Linked DNA regions of Homo sapiens. The protein of the gene in region 2 purifies or fractionates together with the protein of the main gene of each other region. This does not show direct contact. Each region holds a gene or a part of one and is shown on either strand. Other genes may lie near its edges.

Region 1 (3,500 bases), on a different chromosome or scaffold from region 2:
CCTCTATCCCATTAAAAAAGAGCAGATAAAGCTCAAACTATTCCACCTGGTAGGGTCATTTACCAAGGGCTGGTAGGAGATTCCGAATACTCAATATTCTCAGGCATGCAAGAGGACCTAAGAGACTGAAAAAAGTGAATTGTTGGCCAGAAACCTTGGGTCTTTTCATAAAAGGAAATTTGGGCTTGTCAATCCCTCTTTAAAGATATAGGTAGAAAGAAGAGATTTTTAACCCTTTGTCTGCAAAAGAAAAAGGGTTAAATGAAGCATCTATACAGATGACTTTGGGAGATTATGACACCTTTTGCCATCTTCAGGGCTTACGTCTTTACTTTCTTGGCTAACCAGTTTCTTAGAAGAAAATGTGTCAGGGACTTGGGGATCTACAGTCATGCTTTAGCATGGCTATGGAGCTAATTATCAAGCTTAAAGGGTAACTTTGGGAGGACTCCTCCCTTCACTCCTAGTCTCCCTTGGAAGAGCAGTCCAGGCTCAGGGAAGGGAACGGATAGGATGACACAGTAAGTACAGAAACTGAAGCTGTCAATAGTGAAGGAAAAAGGGGAATTCTTCGTTGCTTTGGCATTGACACATAAGTACTTTGATTAAAAAAAAAAAAAACTATGGATCAACCATTCAAAGCATCAATTCTATAGCTTTTTGCAGCAAGATGATCAGTTATTGCTGGTAACTGCAGATTCTACAGAAAAGCACTTTTAAAGTTCTGTTGGGCCATGAATGAACCTGGAAGGAGGAAAGCACAGTAACAATGGAAACTAAAGTCCTATTATTAATGTGACTTTTCTGCTTCAGAATTTCTGAGACTTTATAGTCACTGGAAAATAGCCATTAAATTCTTTAAAGATTAGCTCTTCAACAGTAGCTACACATAAAATGCAGTATTTCAAGTGCCTGATGCTGCTGTGGTATGCTTTATCATAATGCTTAAGGGCATGATCAAAATTAAAATGGCTTATGAGTTTGCCATATTAATCATCTTAGTTCCATACACACTGAGACTTTAAAAGGGAAAAACCACTCTAGCAAATAATTGTCAATTATAAACCTGTATGTAAAACATTCTTGAAAACCTAGAGTTGGTTAAAAAGGTAGAGATGTCTGACGGCCTCTTCTTAAATTGATATATTTTACCTTCTCTTAGATGTACATTTATAAGTAGGAACATGTCCTTCCACTGAGTATGTTACTGAATAGCCCTTAGGAAATTAAACCCATTTATTTACTAATATTTGACAGGCATAGAAGTGTATTAATTAGCATAAAAGTTGGAGATGAAAACCCTATAGAAACAAATTGGCCAATATTATACTAATTGAATGCAGAATGTGGCATTCTATTCCCATTCAACTAATAATCAGCTTCAACTGACAGGAATTTGCACAGAATGTTACACAATACCCTGTTTCCCAAGAAAGTACTACCTTACCTAGAGATGATCTAAGATATTTTTGTTCATCCTCTGAATAAGGTGAGACTAAAGGGTGCTAACTCCCTGGACCTGGCTGTGAATGCTACTGAAGAGTATCAACACAACTGTTAATTATACCGCCGTGCTTTAAGTTTAAGACTTACCTTAAAACTCAAGCTGAAGGCTGGGCACGGTGGCTCATGCCTGTAATCCCAGCACTTTGGGAGGCCGAGGCGGGTGGATCACAAGGTCAGGAGATCGAGACCATCCTGGCTAACACGGTGAAACCCCATCTCTACTAAAAATACAAAAAGAAATTAGCCAGGCGTGGTGATGGGCGCCTGTAGTCCCAGCTACTTGGGAGGCTGAGGCATGAGAATGGCATGAACCCGGGAGGCGGAGCTTGCAGTGAGCTGAGATGGCACCACTGCACTCCAGCCTGGGCAACAGAGTGAGACTCTTGTCTCAAAAAAAAAAAATCAAGCTGAAATTGTTTCAGCCTAGTAAGATGCTGCCAGCAGCATTTCTATGAGCAAACATGGCCAAATTAGAGTCAAGTAGCTGAGCTTGCTAACTGCACTGTGATGCCACACTGGAATAACTTAGTAGTCCCTTAAAATTAATGGAAGTTAAATCCACAGGGAAGTGATGATACTCAAAGCTGGATCAGCAGTTTCAAGATCTGGGTTCTTGGAGATCCATAGGTAAGCTCAGCAAATGGAAGACGACGTCAACACGGCTATTTTGAAGCTTAGGTGGGAATGGAACACAAAGAAGGTTTGAGGTAAGATATGCTGGAAAGGCAAGATGTAGGCTAAGGGAAATTCAATCCAAGGTCGAAGAATAGGAAATTACTGCTCAGACCACAATGACTATCATTCTGAAAGGATTTCACAGAGTGTGCAGCTGCTTAGATTTAAGAACACTCTTCTTCACTATGTAAACTAATTTATGGCAGCACCTTATATTTAGAACAAGTGGTAATTCCCTTTACTAAGTGAACAGATTATTAAAACCTGTAGTAGCTTTGAACCGTTTGTACTTGAAAATGGGGGTATAAAGGGGTATATATTTTTTCCAGAACCACATTTATTGGCGTATACATAGAAGCAAATCTTAAGGCATGCTGAAATTTGTTGTAAATCCCAATCTTTACTGCCATGGGGAAAAGAACGCTGGAATTTTCCAAACTTAAGTCTGTAAATATGCTCATCTTAAGTTCATGTAATGTTTCCGCTAACTCACCAAGAATAAGCTGACAATTTAAACAACTTTTACTGTGTAAAAATGAAGTGCACGGCATGGCATCACAGTATCTTGACATTTGTTTTGTGTCATTTAGCTACTTTAGAAAATAGTTTCTGAACTCTTTCCCCCTTTATACTGTATTAAGGCAAAAACAAAACTTCTGAAGCATTAAAGATCTTCACCAAAATAACTATTGGTAACTTCAGGAATTTGTCAGTTGCCTTATGTGAGGATGAATAGATCCACCAAGCACGCCTATAATACAAAGTAAACTATGATTTTTATTGTGAAATTTTCATAGATGGAAAATTGAATATTCTGTCCATTTCATTTTACAATTATCTTACCACTTATTTTTGTACCATGTATTTCAATTGCCTGTTTAGTGAAAAATAAAAATTAAAAAAACCTATTCATTTTTGGCTTGTGTTTAGCTTAAATTTTATCATTAAATTAAGGAGCCCACAACAAAATGTGTTGCCAGCAGCCATATCCCAAGCCCCTGCGTGAAGAATGTTTTGGCTGCTATTTCAACCTAAGGAAACAACGTTTGACCTCAGTCACCTTAAAATGCCAGTGTGGGCAGAAGATTTTTTATTCCTCACAATTAAAAACCAAACAAAACCCCCTAGGATCTTGAAGGTCCTATTTCAGAAAATCTTCATATATGCAAAATGTCACCAAAATAAATACATTTGCCTCAATTATCATTACCACCCAGTATTCATGTTTTAATTTTTAGGGATATAATTTCTAAATTTAGAGCAATCAAATTTCCTGCTTCCTATCTTAATGCTTAAACCCTCCTCCAACACCAAGTTAA
Region 2 (3,210 bases):
AAGGTAGTCATTAACTCATGGTTCATTATGTGGTTGTCAACTTTAGGAAGACCTCACCTATCTGAGCTGGTCTGGTGACAGTAATATAGTTCTTTCTCTGATGGCAAGTGCCACCTTAGGATGGCAGTAGTGGTGGAACATGGGCACAGTGCAGCATTCACGAGTGCTCTGTAACACACAGCTGTCTCCTTCATCAAGACAGTGACCTTCCTTCTCTTTCAAAAGTTGTGTCCTATTCCTGACCCCAGAAGGCAGATAAATACGTTATTTTCTAGCCCAGGCTATCTTGTCTTTAAGTAAACCCACTTCTTCAACAGGAAATCATTGCCAAGAACTCCAGTGCTGAATTTAAAAACGTCCAAACCCTTTTCCAACCTCTTCTACTTCTGTACTTCTAACCCCCTCCAATCTTAGGGAATCATAATCATTGGTTTTAAAGAAGATTGTTTTTAACATTCAGTTATAGTTGTGTACCCCTAATAAGAAAAGTCGCCTCATCATTTTCACTTGCCTCATCTTTTATTAAGAATAAAATACTTTTAAGATGTAAACAAAGGGAACCATGACCAAGGATTAAGTCAACGTATCTATTTTTATTATGAAACATTAAATTTTGACACATTGCCTCATTTGCTTTTTTAAAATCTATTATCTGACTTAAACCTATTCAGCAAAAATGCCAATAAATTATATTAATCATACTTTGGGTCTTTTTAAAACTAGGAACATAATATGTTTTATGATAAACAATACTACTAAATCTGAGTTGTATGAACTGTTAACTTGAAATTTGTTTTAGATGTTTAGCTTAAAACAAAAAGAAAACCAATCACATTAATACACTGTTGCAAAAGTTTCTCCGGAATGCCCTCCACATCACTGTGTGTCAGCATCCTTCGGCTTCTTCACTGAGGTATGGAATGCAGCCATATGTAGGTGTCAAGGCACTCATTCTAAGCTGTCCTATCCTGCACATCTTAGCAATCACATTAGATGGAGGGCTGATGATATGCACTAACTCCCAACCCAGGCTATCTTGCTTTTAAATAAACTAATTTCTTTAAAAGAAAATCATCAACTAAGGACTCAAATGCTGAATTTAGAAATAATAATTCCAATTCAATACACATTCAATCAAATGTGTTAGTACTTAAAAGTCACAAATTTTGCAAAGTAAACAACGAATGAACTAAGGCAAATAGCATTGTCACCACATGCCTTAAAATGGTATATTTTTGGTGTTTGAAGCTCTTTGCAAATTACATTTTGGGACAGTTCAGATGGATTTAAATAAAAGATGTGTGTTCTACATAAATTCAGTTTTAAGGTTTTCAACATGGGTGGCAACATTACAAAAATATATCAATAGTCTTAATAGTGAATGTTTTCCACCTGGTTTCTAAATCTTTATTTTCCATGGAGGTAAACCAAAGTTTAGAGTCCATCTTCAGAGTTATGATATAATCTCTATTGTTCCTAGAGATTTGAAAACTAGATATGATCTAGATCCTTGCCAGGATCTTCACTTTCATCATCCTCATCCTCTTGGTCTCCAGATTCAAGTTCATCCTCTTCTTCAACCTAGAGGAAAAAGACGTATTTAATATTGTGAAAATCTGTTCATGTCACATTCAACATTTAACAATATATACTACTGATAATTTTTTTTTTTTCTGAGATGGAGTTTTGCTCGTTACCCAGGCTGGAGTGCAATGGTGCGATCTCGGCTCACTGCAACCTCTGCCTGCCAGGTTCAAGCGATTATCCTGTCTCAGCCTCCCGAGTAGCTGGGATTACAGGTGCCTGCCACCAAGCGCCCTGCTAATTTTTGTATTTTTAGTAGAGATGGGGTTTCACCATGTTGGCCAGGCTGGTCTCGAACCCCTGACCTCAGGTAATCTGCCCACCTCAGCCCCCCAAAGTGCTAGGATTACAGGTGTGAGCACTGTGCCCAGACAAATTTTGTATTCTAGTAACTACAGTAGAATATAAGCCATCTGATTTCTTTGATTTGATGCCAAGGCTCTCTGTCATTTCTAATATGAATGAGATATATCAGTTAACTTTGCTGATAAATGGCTACACCTCTTTACACACAAATCTGAAACAAACATGGCAAAAGATAATGACATGCTTGGGTGACTACAGTCTTGTTACCAATCAAATCAATTCACTTTCTAGGCTTACGGTCCAAAAGAAAATAGTCTGTAAGTACTGAAAACTGAACCTAATCTGTGTATTAAGTAAATTCAATGAAAACAGTGAAAACAGTATAGATGGTACCATATTCATGAACCCACATATCCATTCCTATAATACAGGCACAACTTTTCCATGTTACATTAAAAATCTTTTAAATGCATTATACTAAAACATAATACAAATCATTTTTGGAGACATTTTAATCTTACTGGATGACCAAGATCCTTGAGTTTATTCTTCAATGACAGTATTTTCTGATCTTGATCGGCCAAGAGCACCAAGAGATCATCTTGTTCTTTTTTAGAATCTGTAATTTCCAACTCTAGTTTGTCTTTCTCAGTTTGTAAAATGGCAATGGTACTATTAGATGAATCCAGCTGCTCTTTAATGGCAGTTCTTTCCTCAGACAGAGCTTTAATTTCATTCTAGGAAAAGAAAGGTGAAAGGCAGGAATCTAAAATTAGCACTCACTTTCCTAGAGTTTTTAACAAATAGTTTCTTTCTATGACAAATCACTGTACTTGTTCAACCTAAGGAATTTAGGGGTGGAGGTTAAGGGTACAGGAGGTTTAACACACACACTAACATGAATTTATTAGACTGTTCATCAAAAATGGTTATTGCCAAAAAATAGTTTAACATCCAAAAAATAGTTTTAGTTAGCTATCCCTGAAAAAACCTTTAAGAGACTTAAAAAAAACAGTACCATTTCAGATAATCAAAGGAGTAAACAGAAACACAAAGCATTTTACAGAAGAAGTCTGATTAGTACCAGAATTTTAGAACTCAAAGCTCAAGTTAAAAAAAAATTTTTTATCCCAACTTCAAGCATACAATTAAATGAAAATAGCTTCAAATAAAAATCTATGGTTTAAAAATAAAATAATTTGGCCACAATCCAAAAAGCACAATTATACATTATTTTCCTTATTTTCCTTAATGTGACCTCATTCCTTTCTTCATGCTATTTATTCTGATGTCTCTGTCACACAATAATATGCTGACAGG
Region 3 (2,201 bases), on a different chromosome or scaffold from region 2:
CCTTGTTGTTCTCATCCACACTTGTGGATTTCTCTATCTCATACATGCCATGTTCCAAAACATCTGTAGCCCAGTCTTTCTTTTCCTGAGCTCCAAACCCCTATGTCTCACTCCCTATTAATTACACCAATTTAGAAAACTATCAAACTGGCCTTTAAGACAAATTAAAATCAAATTGACTATTTATTCTTTACCCAGTGACTTTTGGCCATAAAACATAGTATTAATTATAGATACTAACTGTACTAAAGTTCTAGATCTCAACTATCAAAACTGAAAAAAAAAAAACCACCTAAAAGTCAACAGTATTTTATACACTTGAAAGTCCACAATTTACACAAGCACTTTCATTCTAGCTTTGTAAATTTAGAGAACAATTTAGTTAAAATTACACATTGTACTGGAACAAGAGTTTCTATTTCCCTATCCTGATTCTATTATGATTACTGAAGTCAAATAATTTGATATGACATGATTATAATGCAGTAAAACTTGTTGACAAGTCTTACCTGGAATTAAAAAATATTTAAAAATTAAAGCAAACGTAGAAAAAAATAAAAAGCATTGTTTGATTCTAACAAAATTTATTATGCAGTAATTACAAAGGTTAAAGACTCTTCCATCTCAAATAAAAATAACAGTTATAATTACACACATAATATAGTACCTTATAGAATGATTCCAATAAATATCACAGGAAATACAGTGCATTTTCAAGTTGGAGAGACAAATACTTTCTCATTCACAGTGTTTGACATAGGAAAGCCTATTTACATAACAATCTGTATAAAGTCATGCTCTTAGTAACAGTCTATACAGAGCTGTGCCAACACAATTCTTTCAGAATGTGAAGTACCGGGCAAACCACTCCTGGCGCTGGGGATCTGGAGAAGCCACTGGAGAAGCTTCACTCTGAGCAGGACTGAATTCATAAAAAGAGAGACATGTAACCCAGCATTAAGTCATTTTGCAAAATGAAGGCAAAAGCACATAAAACATCAGCATAGATTACCACAACGGGTTCCCCATGTTGTAAGTCGTGTTTTAAAGATTTGCTACCCCCTCTATACTAGAATCGGTTCTCCACTCCATGAGAGCATAAGAGTGCATCAGCAGCTCAAATGAAGTCAGTTAAGGAGGAGCCACATCACAACAATCACAAAGAACAAAAAACAACTGCAAAAATGTCACCTTCTTTGAATAAAAAATTCAGTAAGAATTGTGGGAAACGAGAGAATAAAATAATGGTCCTCTCTTTCAGCACCTTTTCTCTTTTAGCTGATCGTACAGATGTGTCCTTAAATATAACTAAAGTAACTACTAGTATTTTTTACTATATGCATTTTACATTAAATTTTCATTTCATAATTCCCTATGCAAATACTCCAGGAAAGGGAGAACACTAAAAATATAATTTCCCCCGTTATTGATGTTATATAGTTTATACTTTTCTTAATTCTAACTAAAGATTCTTTGGGCTACTTAAGAAAACAAAAGAATCCCTACCGTCTTTGGGGAAAATTACAAGGCACGCAACAATGTGTAATGGAAACTCCAGTAGTCATGTTCCTTGAGCTCATGCACATGCATCTTACTGATACCTGAACATACCCATGCACAAGGGAAAATAAGCAACACAAAATATTTAGCAGGAGACAAATTCAGAGGTGTATCTGACTAATTTTCATTCTTGCTATTTTTTTTGTTAATCATTAACTATGTCACTAATCACTTAGCCTAAAAAAACCTGCCTACTTTGTAAGACTATTACTAGTGACACTGCTAAGATTTAGTAAGAATAAGAAAAAAAACATAAAGCAGCAAAAAATCAGTAATAGTAAGATGAGCATAAAACAACAGTACTTTCTGACTTTATCTAATGGCTAAATTTCTAATGAAATTTGCATTTCATTCAAAATTTGCTAATACATTTAATCAACAACTGCAAGGTAAAAAATTGGAATGGAAATTTTTAAAATTATTTATTTTTTCTAAATTTAGTTTTTGCATAAGTATATTTAAGTTCCCAGAGTTTACGTATGTTTCTATTTTGACAATAAGCATATATATATATATATTTATAAATAATCTTGGTAAACAAGAAAGGGAAAAAAATAAACATATATAAAAAACAAAAACCACTTAGTAAACAAAAAATTATTTTAAAGTTCTACAATAAGGATGGATTGTTAATTTAAAAA
Region 4 (3,500 bases), on a different chromosome or scaffold from region 2:
ATTACTATACAAAGACAAGTGCCTCAGGGCAAGATCTTCCTGCAACACTTGAACTGTGAAGTCCAGGCCCGGCTTGAGGACCAGGTCACAGATGGCCATTCCAAATGCGAATGACCAAAAGAAGAAATTAATTGGCTAAAATCACACCTTGAAAAGCCCTATATTTTCTCAATGAAAGTTTTGACTTGGGTGAAAATAGCTTAATCCAGATTGAAGTTTTAACAAAAAGAGCAGAAATCTCAGTAGCATTCTCTCCGTCACTGTTTTTTACCTATCAGTTGCCACACGGAGCTGAGAAATTCTAGTCACATCTATTCATATCCTTGGCTTTCCTGCTAGTTACTCTTGTCTCCTTTATCTTCTATTTCATTTAGTTACTGAATGCTTACAGAAAAAAAACCTACTGTCATGTGGCTTTTCATCTAATTTTAATTTTAGTGGAACCGAAATGTAAATCAGGACCTCCAAATTTCTCAACAAGTTTTAGTGAAGGGAAAACAACATTGTGTCCTCACAAACCTCCAGGATTCTTCCCTCCCATCTCCCCCTGCCCAGCCCCCACTCCACAAATGTATCTTTTTCTATTTGCAGAAAGATTTCTTCCCTTTGGCCTTGATTCCTTCTTCAAATGGTAACAATTATACAAGATTTAAATGAATTTCACATGTGAGAGCATGAGAACCTGTAGGATTCTCAGCAACTGAGCAACACACTCTTACAACAATTGCCCTTAGCTCAAAAATAAACTCAGGGAATGATTGCATTAAGTTAAAGGTATATTTGGTTTAGGGAATAAAAATTTCCAATAAATGGCTTGGAAAACATAATCCTATTAACTTAATGGAAATTAATCTTGAGTACTATTTAGCTCTGGAACTTCAGCTGTTTTTGTCTTTTTAATTTTTTTGCCAGCCACAAAATGAAAACTAGATAATGAATGCATGGCTTATCCTAATGTGATACAACTCAACTCTATTAATATACTAATTGATATGTGCCTAATTAGCAAGGTCGTATCAATGATATTGTGATGTGCATATTTATGTAGAGAGACAGACAAAACAGTAGTAGTGATTATAGTCCTATTCTATCTGAATTAGGCTTGTCAAAAAGATATTTTCTCCTATAATGTTTAAAACATCCCTCATCAAAATCTGCAATTAAGTTCAATATTAGTATGCTTGAGATATGTAAACTGTGTTAATAGGTTATGCCAATAAAAAATATATGAACATGTATCTTTAAGGAAAGGGTCTAAACTAGAAACATCATCACATTAAAAACTGTAATCCTCTCATTTCTTTGCCACAGTTTGTATTCCTGACTCTTCTAACTCGGGAGTATCATTGTCAGTTGGGCAGCATCTAACATCTAAGGGTGTACAACCCTGAGGACCACAGGGGCCCTGGGAAACTGTGTGTTAATAAACATGCAGAGTCTAGATATGACTCAGGCCCAGCTGGCAAAGCGAGACCATATACAGTTCAACTCTTTGGTTTCATGGACCACATCTCTCTGTCTGGGCTCAGACACACTCAGCTTATTAGGGCTGAATAAGAATGAGATTCTGGGTAACTTTGGGTCTTTTTATCTGGGCTGGTCTTTTCCAGCATGTTCAAATGACATATGGGCGGCCATTTTGGGGATAGGGTATGGGTTCTTGGTGAAGGAGTGGAAATAGCGGGGGCTTTGTAGATATGGTACAAAAGGTGGGATTGGAGACAAGAGTGGAATATTAAATGTTTGGAGCTTTACTCCATTATGACCCCCAAATTTGCAGCTTCTGTGAGTCTAGATTGACCCCTCCTGATGATTGTGCTGGCAGAAACTTTAGTACAGGCTTCATGTACTTTTACCTTCCTTTACTTTGTTCCATAGTTTATATGCGTGGCTAGGTGAATGTCTGTCTTTGTTCTTAAAACTTTTATTCCTTTATAATGCTTTTGACCTCTTTTTCTCCATTATTATTCCTTTCTCCCAAATAGGTTTTGACTTGTTCCATAGTTCTATTCAAAGCAACTTTAAAACTCAACTTTTTATTTTTATAATTGTTCATTTTCCTTTATTTTCTTGGATCCTGGATGTTACTAGTAATACATGTTTTACTTGTGTGCCTTTTAGATGAGTGCCTTCAATGAATGTCTTCCTGTTATCAGGAAGAAGCTATCTAGTTTTATTTATCCATGGTTGTCTATATATTTGGCAAATATATTCTGTTTAAGTTATTTTTTCTACCTGTTCTTTTCATGCTAGCCAGATAGGCATAAATTAGCGGTATGATTGAATTCTTAGGGAGAACAGGGGACCCAGAAATAGACAGCTACTTGAGCAAGACACACAGCTCTGATTTGGCCTCAAAATGGCAAAAGAACCCTATGAATGGAATGTTATGGGTCTTTTCTGTTGAGGAGCTGCCTCTACTCTGGTTGAATCCACTCTCTAGTGCTCTGCTTTTTGCTATTGGTATAATCTGACATTATTATAAAGTCTTCTGTGCGTGGTGTTTTCTTTGCTGTAGTTCTCACTTCCTTTTTTCTCGATTAAAAACTGCCAGGAACCACAGGAAATGTGTTATCATTCAGTGAAACAAGAGCACATCAGGTTGTTCAGCAAAAATCAGAGCAGTTCATGATTTATAATCAAAAGCAACTCACGAGGATTTACCCCTCTGCCTACCGCATTGATTCCAGTAACTTCAACCCTCTCCCCTACTGGAACGCAGGCTGCCAGCTAGGTGTGTATTCCTTGGGAAGGAGTGGTTCTCTGTATATTCTCACTATGCCACCATCTTGCCTAATTCTCTCCCACTTTCAACTTGCACAGTGGCACTGAATTATCAATCTGAAGGACGAATGATGCAGTTAAACCGAGCCAAATTCAAGGCAAATGGCAATTGTGGCTATGTCCTCAAACCCCAGCAAATGTGCAAAGGTGTGTATTAATTTCATAGTCATAAATGCAGGTGTGTGTTAATTTCATAGTCTAAATGCAGGCAACCTTTATTAAGGAAGCTGTTTAGAAAGTGTGATACCCCAGAGTTTTTCAACTTTTTTTTTTCAAAAAGATAGGTTAAGGTGTTTGAATGTGAATTAGAATTCTTGTCACCACTACTTAATATTTGGTTAGCCGTGATGTTTAGAATGTTATCTTGAGAGGTCGTGTGTGAAAGAGGGACATGGATAGCATTGGGTTATCACTTGAAATCCAGTGCCCCATATAAGCTGGACTGCTTTTTAAGGTCTGAGCCCAATCTTTCAGAAACTATCTTAAGTAATGTGAGTCTGTGACCTGCTGGGAAGCTTCAATTCCACCTGAAACAATTTTATCAAGCCCTTTTACTCAGTGTAGTCCAATTACAAAACAGTGCTAACAAAAGAGAAAGGATAGGCTGGGCATGGGGGCTGACGCCTGTAATTCCAGCACTTTGTGAGGTCAAGGTGGGCGGATCACCTGAGGTCAGGAGTTTGAGACCAGCCTGGCCAACATGGTAAAACGCCGTC
Region 5 (3,500 bases), on a different chromosome or scaffold from region 2:
ACAACAGAACTTAAAAATGAGGAAAACTGAAAAAGAGGATACTTTCTTCATAACGACTATAACACAATCTCAAAATATTAGATTGGCTTAATGATGCCATGCTTACACTGTAAGATGACATTCAGAGCATAGTGTTCTTTGCATAAGAGTTTTCCTTTAACATAAAAGTGGTATTTTTTTCCTATCATTATATTTTCATTAACTCTTCAATAATTTCTGTGGAGATTTTTGTTTTTGTTTCATATTCTTGGTCAAAAAACTCTGCATTTCCAAAAATAATTTTTTCATAATCTTCTGATGAAGTAGAATTAACTTTTATCAGCATATATTTTTAAATATTCTATGAATAGCACCTAAATATTCTATGAATAGCACCTCTGGCCTCCATCTCCTAAAGTGCTGAGATTACAGGCTAATGCCTGGAGGTGGAGGCCAAAGGATCACTTGAGCCCAGGAGTTCATGACCAGCCTGGGCAACATATTGAGACCCTGTCTCTAAAAATAAAAATTAAAAAAATTAGCCTAGCATGGTGGTGCATGCCTGTAGTCCTAGCTACTTGGGAGGCTGAGGCAGGAGGATGGCTTGAGCCGAGTAGGTCAAGGCTGCAGTTAGTTATGACCATGCCACTGCACTTCAGCCTGGGCAACAGAGCAAGACCCTGTTTCTAAAAAAAAAAAAAAAAAAAAATTAAATTAAATTAAATTAAAAAAAAGGATGGAAAATCTATTTCATAGAATATTATGCAGTCATTAAAATATGTTTTATCAATGACATGATAAAATGAATATATTTAATTTAAAAAGCAGGACTCAAAACTATATATATTATTAATTCTAATTTTATAAGGCTAAAAGTATGAACATACACACACAGAAAAAGTATAAAATATTAAATTTATATATATATGGATGCAGGCATTACAGAAGCTTTTATTTTCTGCTTTGTACTTTTCTAGTTTTCCAAATATTTGATAAGAAATATTTAAAATCGCCAGGCACGGTGGCTCATGCCTGTAATCCCATCACTTTGGGAGGCCGAGGTGGGTGGATCATCAGAGGTCAGGAGTTTGAGACCAGCCTAACCAACATGGTGAAACCCCCCATCTCTACTAACAATATAAAAATTAGCTGGGTGTGGTGGCATGGTGGCAGGCGCCATAATCCCAGCTACTCGTGAGTCTGAGGCAGGAGAATCGCTTGAACCTGGGAGGCGGAGTTTGCAGTGAGCGGAGATAGCACCATTGCACTCCAGCCTGGATGACAGAGCGAGACTCCATCTCAAAAAAAAGAAAAGAAAACAAACGAAAAGAAATATTTAAAATCAGAAAAAAATAATTTAAAAAGAGAATTTACATTAGTTCATAGATATACTCCTCCCATCCCCACAAGAAGCATTCTGGAACACTCTAGAAATTGGAGCGAAAAAGTAACATAATATTTTAAACTTAGAGTTAATATTTATCTGGGGTTCCTAAATTTAAGATTGTAGTTTGATATTAAAAATTATAAAACAGGCACTTGACCTTCACGTGCCTGCTTGGGTTTCTCCCAAGCGAACTTTCCTTTCTTTCCTGTTCTAAAGCCTTTTAAAGTAAACTTTCATTCCTGCTTGGAAAAAAAAATACATATATATATGTGTGTGTGTATATATATATATATATATAAAATAATTTTTCTACTTACCTTCTCCAACCATTGTCACGCCTATTGACATGCCTAAGAACTTGCTCTTAGTCCAGACATGCGCATTTACACACATCTTCCTCTCTGTACATTCTGCATAAAATCCTGAGACTGGAGGATGATGAGAAACCTGCTCAGCAACAAATCTGACTGTGTAACAGTCTGATCCCACCTGGGTCAAAGACTCCCCCGATAAAGGAGCATGATTTGTGACTCCCTGGGTGGAAGAACTGCTAAAAACACTGGATGCTACCTCGCTTTTTGGCATCTTCCAGGAACAGTGAAATGTTTCTCCAATGATAGGATTGTATGGTTTTTTAGCAATGGCTCCCTTACGGCCTTCATGAAATGAGGTAAGGTAGTACTCAACAAAGCGAATCATTCTGTCCTCAGCTGTGGCTCCATTAGTGATGGCTATAAATAGGTCTGGATGAGACATAAAGTCTGCATACATTTCCAGCAAGGAACGCTTCTCTAGGATAAATGTAGGAAGCACCACCTAAAACAACAATCAATGAAAGAGGGGAAATTTAATCCATGTGTAGCATATCTGTAGACAACTATTCTCTCTCTGAAAACATTTCATTCTAGATGGGTATTAAAAACAAAGTCACAAAGAAAAAGTATTCAGTCACATTAAAAAATAAGCATTCTTGGCCAGGCGCAGTGGCTCATGCCTATAATCACAGCACTTTGGGAGGCCAAGTTGGGAGGATTGTTTCAGCACAGGAGTTCGAAACCAGCTGAGGCAACATAGTGGAACCGTGTCTCTACAAAAGTTACAAAAATTAGCTGGGCATGGTGCCTTGTGCCTGTGGTCCCAGCTGCTCAGGAGGCTGAGGTGGGAGGATCACCTGGGAGGTCAAGGCTACAATGAGCCATGACTGCGCCACTGCACTTGTACCTGAGCAACAGAGTGAGACCCTGTCTTAACAACAACAACAAAAAAGCATTCTTAAAAGGACAGGCAAATCTGCCCAAGACTAAACATAAATTCAAGAGAGTCAGAAGAAACTTCAAAAAAATCCTCAAACTTCTAGACTGGATAAAAGTATCACCAGGGAAATGGTGTTAAAACTCAAAGTAAATGTTAGCCATGCCTTTGCTCCTTTCCTATGTTAAAATTAAATTGTAGATGAATGACCAAGACATGAGAAAAGTCAATAAATGTCATTCCCTGAGAACAGACTAAAGAGATCACAGACCGAAGCAAAAACTGCAACATATATTTAATCTTAAGCACAAGAGAACTATTTCCAATAAGAGAAATTTTTATACTTAAAACCAGGTAAGTGTAAGAAAGATAAATATTTTACTTAAAGCAGAGTTGGGAGAGGCACTGCAAAATGGTTTAAACGTCTGAGAAAGCAAAATCTGGCAATATTTTTCAAGAGCCCTAAGATGTTCTTACCCATTTAGCCTAGTACTTACATTCCAAGAATCTAGCCTTAGGAAATAAATAATTGAATGAAGGAAAAGCAATGTGAAAAAATAATTAGAACAACCTGCATTTTAAACTACGGTTCTAGCTAACTGAAGTAGGGAACTTTCATTTAATTGACTATTATAGTCATTTAAAAAGACGGTTTTGAAGATGATACAAATAATACAAAAGACAGTGGATGTTGCAGGTTCAGCTGGTGAATTGAACACATGCATCTTAATTTCACTTTCTGTCGAAATTCCACTGAAATTAAATTAACTTCATATAAAGACAAACCCAGAGATACCAGGAAAGTAGACAAAACACAACAAAATTTTGAGAGTTCCTAACTAGAAAGCTGAAACTTAGGCAGTAGGTTACAATATGCACAGAT
Region 6 (3,500 bases), on a different chromosome or scaffold from region 2:
TCACATTTTAACTTTCCTCACATTTTCCAAATCACTGATACTAACTACAAAAACCCAGACATGGCTGGGCACGGTGGCTCACGCCTGTAATTCCAGCACTTTGGGAGGCCAAGGCAGGTGGATCACTTGAGGTCAGGAGTTCGAGACCAGCCTGGCCAACATGGTGAAACCCCATCTCTACTAAAAACACGAAAATTAGCCAGGCATGGTGATGGGTGCCTGTAGTCCCAGCTATTCGAGAGGCTGAGGCAGGAGAACTGCTTGAACCCAGAAGGTGGAGGTTGCAGTGAGCCAAGATCGTGCCACTGCACTCCAGCCTGGGCAACAGAGCGAGACTCCGTCTCAAAAATAAAAAACAAAAAACAAACAAACAAAAAACAAGAAAAACAAAAACCCAGGCACACAGAAATAGCTTAAAATCTAATCATACTTAAATATAAAAGGTAGATAGATCCAAAACCAAACTTCAAAATTTACTCATAATATGCACTCAAATATGCAAGACATACGTGTATCTGAATATTTAGTGGATATTCCTCAAGGCTTGCCCACTTTCAACTTAGACTAAGAACTAATCATTTAATAGAACATCACGTGCCAAATACTAGGTACTTGGGTACACAAAAATATTCCTTCAGTGATTTCACAGTAAACAAACAAGTTAAAAAATAAAAAGATTGGAACAACATTTCCTGGTAAAACTTACCATGGCATCTTCCATATCATAGCCAGTGTAAGAAATCACAGCAACGATGGCATTGGTCCCAATTGGATAGTTATCCATGTCATAATAATCATACATGGAGGGTCTCACCAAGGGACTCTGAGGAGTCTGAAGACGATACAGTTTGTTATCCGATCGGTCTTGATAAGTGAGAAGTGGAAAGCCCATAGTTTGCTTACCTACATGGAGAAAAAACATCTTAGCATTTTCTGCTGCTTTCATCTTGATTATAGGTGTGATACGCAACACTGGAAACAACTAAATATCCATCAGAGGAAAATGAACAAATAAATAGTCATGGTAGTTATGCTTACTTTAGACTAATACATAAGCTGTGAAAATGAAGTAAACCTAAATGTATCAACGTGACCAGACCAGGAAAACCATGCTGAGTGGGAGAAAGTGCAGACTGACATTTAATATGATACGATTTATGTGTATTTGCAACACACCCCAAACAATTCTATACTTAGTTTATGGATACATGTATGATGTAATAAAAGCTTTAGAAGGGGACAGAAAGGAAGTACGCAAATTACAGGCTATCACTACTCGGGGAAGAAAAGGGGATAGGAATTATTACGTAATTAGATTACTTTCTTACAGCGGAATATGTATTTAATTCTAAGTAGTGGAGCATGGGGTGAGATTCCTCTGTGTACTACCTCACAGTACAGAGAATCATTTCACGACAAAATGATTTTAAAATATAAATACATACAAGTGAAATTTTTAAAAAAATTATAGACTTAGAGCTTCCAGTAATAAAGGGCTACTCTTACTAGACCACCCTCAACACATAAGTATGAGACGCAGACCCCCAACTACACATACAGCACTGGAGAGTAACCAAAAGCTGTCAGAAGCTGAGAAGAATTTTTACTTGGACAAAAGGAACACACTGGGTGAATTTCCAGGTTTTTAAGTATTTATGTATTTATTTTTGCCTTATGGCCCAGTGTGGCAGCTACAACTTAGATAGAAACCCACAATCTTACTGGCTTGAAGAACCAAGAAATAGAGTTCTGAGCATGACAACAATTGGGAAGGGGGAACATTTCAGAAATGAGAGAACCACAAAGGGAGACCCTTAAATTCAGCATATAAATTGGGTCCGAATCTTTGGTGGACTCCTGAACTATGCATGCATGGGACAGATCACAGCAGCCCACCTAAGGCTGAAGAATGTACTTCAACTGCCACGTTCACCAAGTTAAGTACCAGTGAAAACTAAAAACCAATCCTCTTCCCCTGGAGAATTTTTGGTGACATGCACTGAACCAGGTGATGGACTGTGTATTAAGAAGGAAAGACATAAAATGAAAAAAATTAAAATGTAATTGAAGGCCAAACACCACACTAAAAACAAACAAAACCAATCCTCTTCAGAGGACCCTAACAGGATCCAGGGTTTAAAACATACTCCTCGCAATGTTCATAATACAATCCGATATTACTGGGCATACAAAGAAATGGTGAAACTTGACTTATACTCAAAGAGACTGATACTAAGATGACCCAGACATTGGAATCTGCAGATAATGATTTTACAACACCCATCATATAAAACTATGTTCAAAATATAAAGGAAAACATGCCCACAATGAATGAAGATAAGAAATCTTAGAGAAGAAAGAAACTATAAAAAAAGAAACAAGTCAGGCCAGGCGCAATGGCTCATGCCTGTAATCCCAGCACTTTGGGAGGCTGAGGCAGGCAGATCATTTGAGGTCAGGAGTTTGAGACCAGCCTGGCCAACATGATAAAACCCTGCCTCTACTAAAAATACAAAAAATTAGCTGGGCATGGTGGCACATGCCTGTAATCTCAGCTACTCAGGAGGTAGAGGCAGGAAAATTGCTTGAACTGGGGAGGCAGAGGTTGCAGTGAGCCAAGATCGTGCCACTGCACTCCAGCCTGGGTGACAGAGCGATACCCTGTCTCAAAAAAAAAAAAAAGAAAAAAAAAAGAAACAAGTAGAAGTGCTGGACTTGAAAAATACAGGCATGCACTGCATAACAATGTTTTAGTCAATGCAGGATGGCATATATACTATGGTGATCCCATATTTTTACTGTACCTTTTCTATGTTTAGCTACACAAATCCTTGCCATTGTCTTACAACTGTAGACAGTACACAGTACAGTTACATGCCACCCAGGTTTGTAGCCTAGGAGCAACAGGCTATACCATATACTAGGTGTGTAGTAGTCTCTGCCATCTAGGTTTGTGTAAGTTCACTCTATGATGTTCACACTACGACAAAATCACATATGACTCACTTCTTCGAAGGTATCCCTGTCGTTAAGGGCACATGACTGTAAGCAAAAATTCAGTAGAAGACAGAATAAAAAGTGACTGTGATAATAGGTCAATAAAAATAATCCAATCTGGGCCAGGTGCAGTGGCTCACACCTGTAACCCCAGCATTTTGGGAGGCTGAGGCAGGCAGATCACTTCAGGTCAGGAGTTTGAGACCAGCCAGGCCAACATGGTGAAACCGTATCTCTACTAAAACACAAAAATTAGCTGGGCATGGTGGTGTGTGCCTGTAATCCCAGCTCCTCAGGAGGCTGAGGCAGGAGAATTTATTGAACATGGGAGGCAGAGGTTGCAGTGAGCCGAGATTGTACCACTGCACTCCAGTCTGGGCAACAAAGTGAGACTCCATCTCGGGAAAAAAAAAAAAAGATCCAATCTGAAGAAAATAAAGAAAAAAGAGAACAGAAACTCAATGTCTTATGGAACAATATCAAAAGGTTTAAATATATGAATA
Region 7 (3,500 bases), on a different chromosome or scaffold from region 2:
ACTGCTTCTGCTCTTCTAAACTAGATGACAAAACGTCCTTAGTTTCTTTATGGTCAGTATCCATTTGTTCAATATTCTTTTTGAGTTCTGCTATTTCCATGTCTTTCTTTTGATTGAGTTTAATTAAATGCTCATGTTCCAGCTGTAAGGCAGAGGTATTCAAATTACGTGCATTTGACAGTTCTTCAATGGTTTTCTCATACTTGTTTGCTTCTTCCAACAGCCTCTTTTTAGCCCAACACAATTCTGCCTCTATCTCTCCTTTTTCCATTTTTAGAGTCTCCACAATAGTGTTTTTTTCCAGAGAAAGCTGATTGTTACCAGCAAGACATTCTTCTAACTGATGCCTCACATCTTCACATGCTAAAACTAACTTTTCATTTTCCATTTTGACATCAAAAGCAACTTTCTTTAAATTTTCATTGAGCTGTTCTAATTCTGAAAGATTTTGCTTTAAGTTTCTAACTTCAGCTTCTCTTTCTTTAAGTAAGGTATCCTTAAAATTACTATTAGAGTCTTGATTTAGAGACTGCATTAACTCATTCCTTATTCTAGAAAGCTCCTCCTCATTTTGTCTAATATGCTCCTTAAGTTCTAAATTCTCCTTCTGGATGCTTACATTACTTTCTTGTGATTTATTTAGCTGATCTACTAAATTTTCTACTTTGTCCTCAAGTTTCTGCTTGGTTAAATGTAAATCATTTAGGGCCACTTCACTTTGAATTAGCTTTTCTTTCTGTACATCTAACTCTTTAGTAATGTCCATTTTATCATCTTCAAGTTGATGAACTCTCTTTTTTTCATCATTTAGATCTTGTTTCAGTTTACTGATGATGCTATCTCCTTCATTTTGTTGTTTTGATAGCTGATCTTTTATCAAAATCATGTGCTGAAAGAAAAATTTGCATGGTGACTTTACAACATGTTCTCATTTTAGTACTCAAAGAAAATTTTATAAAATCTCATACATAATAGAAAATAATCCTCAAATATTTCTAATCCTTCTTAAAAACATTGTTTTTCTATCAAAAACACCCACTACAAAATTACTTATTATTATTTTACAGCAAACCCATCTTGTCTTTTTTGTTTTTTGAGACGGAGTTTCGCTCTTGTTGCCCAGGCTGGAGTGCAATGGCACAATCTCGGCTCGGCGCAATCTCGGCTCACCGCAACCTCCGCCTCCACCTCTTGAACCTCCCAGGTTCAAGCAATTCTCCTGCCTCAACCTCCCGAGTAGCTGGGATTACAGGCATGCGCCACCACACCCGGCTAATTTTGTATTTTTAGTAGAGATGGGGTTTCTCCATGTTGGTCAGGCTGGTCTCAAACTTCCAACCTCGGGTGATCTGCCTGCCTCAGCCTCCCAAAGTGTTGGGATTACAGGCATGAGCCACTGTGCCTGGCCCCATCTTGTCATTTCTTAAAGCATTTTAGGGATAAGAATTTAAAACCAAAGATGGTAAATAGTATTTTTTTTTTTTTTGAGACAGAGTCGCTCTGTTGCCCAGGCTGGAGTGCAGTGGCATGATCTCGGCTCACTGTAACCTCTGCCTCCTGGGTTCAAGCAATTCTCTGCCTCAGCCTCCCGAGTAGCTGGGATTACAGGCACCTGCCACCACGGCCGGCTAATTTTTTGTATTTTTAGTAGAGACGGGGTTTCACCATCTTGACCAGGCTGGTCTTGAACTCCTGACCTCGTGATCCACCCGTCTCTGCCTCCCAAAGTGCTAGGATGACAGGCATGAGCCACTGCGCCCGGCATGTTGTTTATTTTTAACTCTACACTAGAGTAAGAGTCAACGAACTATAGCCATTGGCCAACTCAGGGATGCTGCCTGTTTTGTAAATAAAATTTTGTTGAAACATGGTCACACTCATTTGTTGGTATCACAACAACAGAGTTGAGTAGACTGAGACAATATGGCCTACAAGGCCAATGATATTTACTATCTAGCACTTTACCAAAAAGGTTTGTCAATCTCTATGAACTAAAATATTAATTAAATCACACCCACCATTTCTGTGTTTAGTTTACTTAGTAGAATGTGCTGCCTTACTGTATTTAATACAGTGTTACCTTTGTAGCTTCTTGATTCTGTCTGTCCAATTCTTCTATCTCAGCTATCAGTGTTTCCTTTTCACTAATACTCTGATTGAGTTCTTGTTCCTTTGCCTCCAAATTAAGTCTTAAGTCATGTAATTCTGAATCCAAACTTATGTCTCTTGTAGCTGTACTTTTAATTACTTCATATTCATTGTTCAATTTTAAAAGTGACATCTGAAGTTCTTCCTGAAATGATAAAAGGAAAAAAGCAACACATACTTTCAATTGGAGACACCAAAAGATTAAAAACATACATAGAAGCAAAACTTGGGATTCTATTTAAGTGCTCTATATTGGAAATAATATTGAACAATACCTCAATAATTGTATGTGAAATTCAACAAACCACATCCTTCATTCATGTGCAATTTTACTTGTAGCTTCAAGCAAAACATTTCTATAACCCTAGACAGATGCAGCGACTGTAAGTTTGTCCTCTAGCACCAAGTTCTTCTTTATAAAAAACGTTCCCATTTGAGAGCCTCTCCTATCCTGCTCCACCGTGGCTACCCTTTATCCATCCCCTGGCCCCACCTACCATACATACATACTTTCCAAAATGTCCGCAAGTCTTTCTGCCTTCCTCACTTCCATTCTCTAACATCCAGTCATCAACAGCCTCAGACTAAATAAAAATATAAAAAATCAACACTCCTTCACCCAAATGTTTAGCCTCTCTAATTAGAAAATAAAAGGTTTCTTTTCTCTTACTAAAGGAATTTCCCTTATTACTTTTGCTTCTGTTAGAACATGGAACTTTTTCTTGACCCTAGAAAGAATCCTCCTTCCTTCCTTTACCTTTTAACCAGACTAGGTTCCCCTCTGTCACACCTGACATTCCTAAAGATAGTATATATACATTTTATAGTCTACTACCTGGTATTTAATGCTTTCTCCAAAATCTCAGAAGTGGGACAGTTCTCTATGCTTCAACATTATTTCAGTCTCTAGTTATGATGTTTGTAATAAACTATATATTAAAGCCTTCTTTCATTGACAGATTTTTAAAAATCAAACCCATATGGAATCTACTTTAAATAGAGTATTGAACCAGGCATGATGGCATTTATCTATAGTCCCAGGAGGCTACTTAGGTGGCTGAGGCAGAAGGATTACTTGAGCCAAGGAGTTCAAGGCTGTAGTGCACTATGATCATGCCATGATCAGCCACAGCACTCTAACCTGGGCAATACAGCAAGACTCTCTCTCTCTAAAAAATAAAATTAAAAAAATAAGAATCTCAAATTCCTTCAAAGAAACAGCCTAATATAAACCTTATAAAAGAAACTCAACATTGCTATGGAGAGTTGGTTGAAAAAACAGAGATCCGATAAAAGCTATACTAGAGTATCTGTATCACAATTCTTATTTCCTTCTAATTCAAAAATTTATT

What was found.
Region 1: the proteins of USO1 (region 2) and CEP68 purify together in Homo sapiens (affinity purification with mass spectrometry, with the first as the bait; one large-scale study listed by BioGRID). This does not show direct contact.
Region 3: the proteins of USO1 (region 2) and FAM184A purify together in Homo sapiens (affinity purification with mass spectrometry, with the first as the bait; one large-scale study listed by BioGRID). This does not show direct contact.
Region 4: the proteins of USO1 (region 2) and PLCH1 fractionate together in Homo sapiens (co-fractionation; one large-scale study listed by BioGRID). This does not show direct contact.
Region 5: the proteins of USO1 (region 2) and OSBPL11 purify together in Homo sapiens (co-immunoprecipitation; one large-scale study listed by IntAct). This does not show direct contact.
Region 6: the proteins of USO1 (region 2) and POLR1B fractionate together in Homo sapiens (co-fractionation; one large-scale study listed by BioGRID). This does not show direct contact.
Region 7: the proteins of USO1 (region 2) and TRIP11 purify together in Homo sapiens (affinity purification with mass spectrometry, with the first as the bait; one large-scale study listed by BioGRID). This does not show direct contact.

What each region holds. Positions count from the first base shown.
Region 1 is NC_000002.12:65,083,916-65,087,415, forward strand, and holds the end of CEP68 (centrosomal protein of 68 kDa), read left to right. Parts: 3' UTR 1-3,089; downstream 3,090-3,500. UniProt on the Homo sapiens protein: Involved in maintenance of centrosome cohesion, probably as part of a linker structure which prevents centrosome splitting. Required for localization of CDK5RAP2 to the centrosome during interphase. Contributes to CROCC/rootletin filament formation.
Region 2 is NC_000004.12:75,811,577-75,814,786, reverse strand, and holds the end of USO1 (general vesicular transport factor p115), read right to left. Parts: intron 2,628-3,210; coding exon 2,412-2,627; intron 1,582-2,411; coding exon 1,492-1,581; 3' UTR 501-1,491; downstream 1-500. UniProt on the Homo sapiens protein: General vesicular transport factor required for intercisternal transport in the Golgi stack; it is required for transcytotic fusion and/or subsequent binding of the vesicles to the target membrane.
Region 3 is NC_000006.12:118,959,263-118,961,463, forward strand, and holds the end of FAM184A (protein FAM184A), read right to left. Parts: intron 923-2,201; coding exon 841-922; 3' UTR 501-840; downstream 1-500.
Region 4 is NC_000003.12:155,493,572-155,497,071, reverse strand, and holds part of PLCH1 (1-phosphatidylinositol 4,5-bisphosphate phosphodiesterase eta-1), read left to right. Parts: intron 1-2,554; coding exon 2,555-2,734; intron 2,735-2,823; coding exon 2,824-2,931; intron 2,932-3,500. UniProt on the Homo sapiens protein: The production of the second messenger molecules diacylglycerol (DAG) and inositol 1,4,5-trisphosphate (IP3) is mediated by calcium-activated phosphatidylinositol-specific phospholipase C enzymes.
Region 5 is NC_000003.12:125,550,498-125,553,997, forward strand, and holds part of OSBPL11 (oxysterol-binding protein-related protein 11), read right to left. Parts: intron 2,183-3,500; coding exon 1,684-2,182; intron 1-1,683. UniProt on the Homo sapiens protein: Plays a role in regulating ADIPOQ and FABP4 levels in differentiating adipocytes and is also involved in regulation of adipocyte triglyceride storage. Weakly binds 25-hydroxycholesterol. Interacts with OSBPL9 to function as lipid transfer proteins.
Region 6 is NC_000002.12:112,569,965-112,573,464, reverse strand, and holds part of POLR1B (DNA-directed RNA polymerase I subunit RPA2), read right to left. Parts: intron 904-3,500; coding exon 707-903; intron 1-706. UniProt on the Homo sapiens protein: Catalytic core component of RNA polymerase I (Pol I), a DNA-dependent RNA polymerase which synthesizes ribosomal RNA precursors using the four ribonucleoside triphosphates as substrates.
Region 7 is NC_000014.9:92,005,560-92,009,059, forward strand, and holds part of TRIP11 (thyroid receptor-interacting protein 11), read right to left. Parts: intron 2,294-3,500; coding exon 2,081-2,293; intron 890-2,080; coding exon 1-889.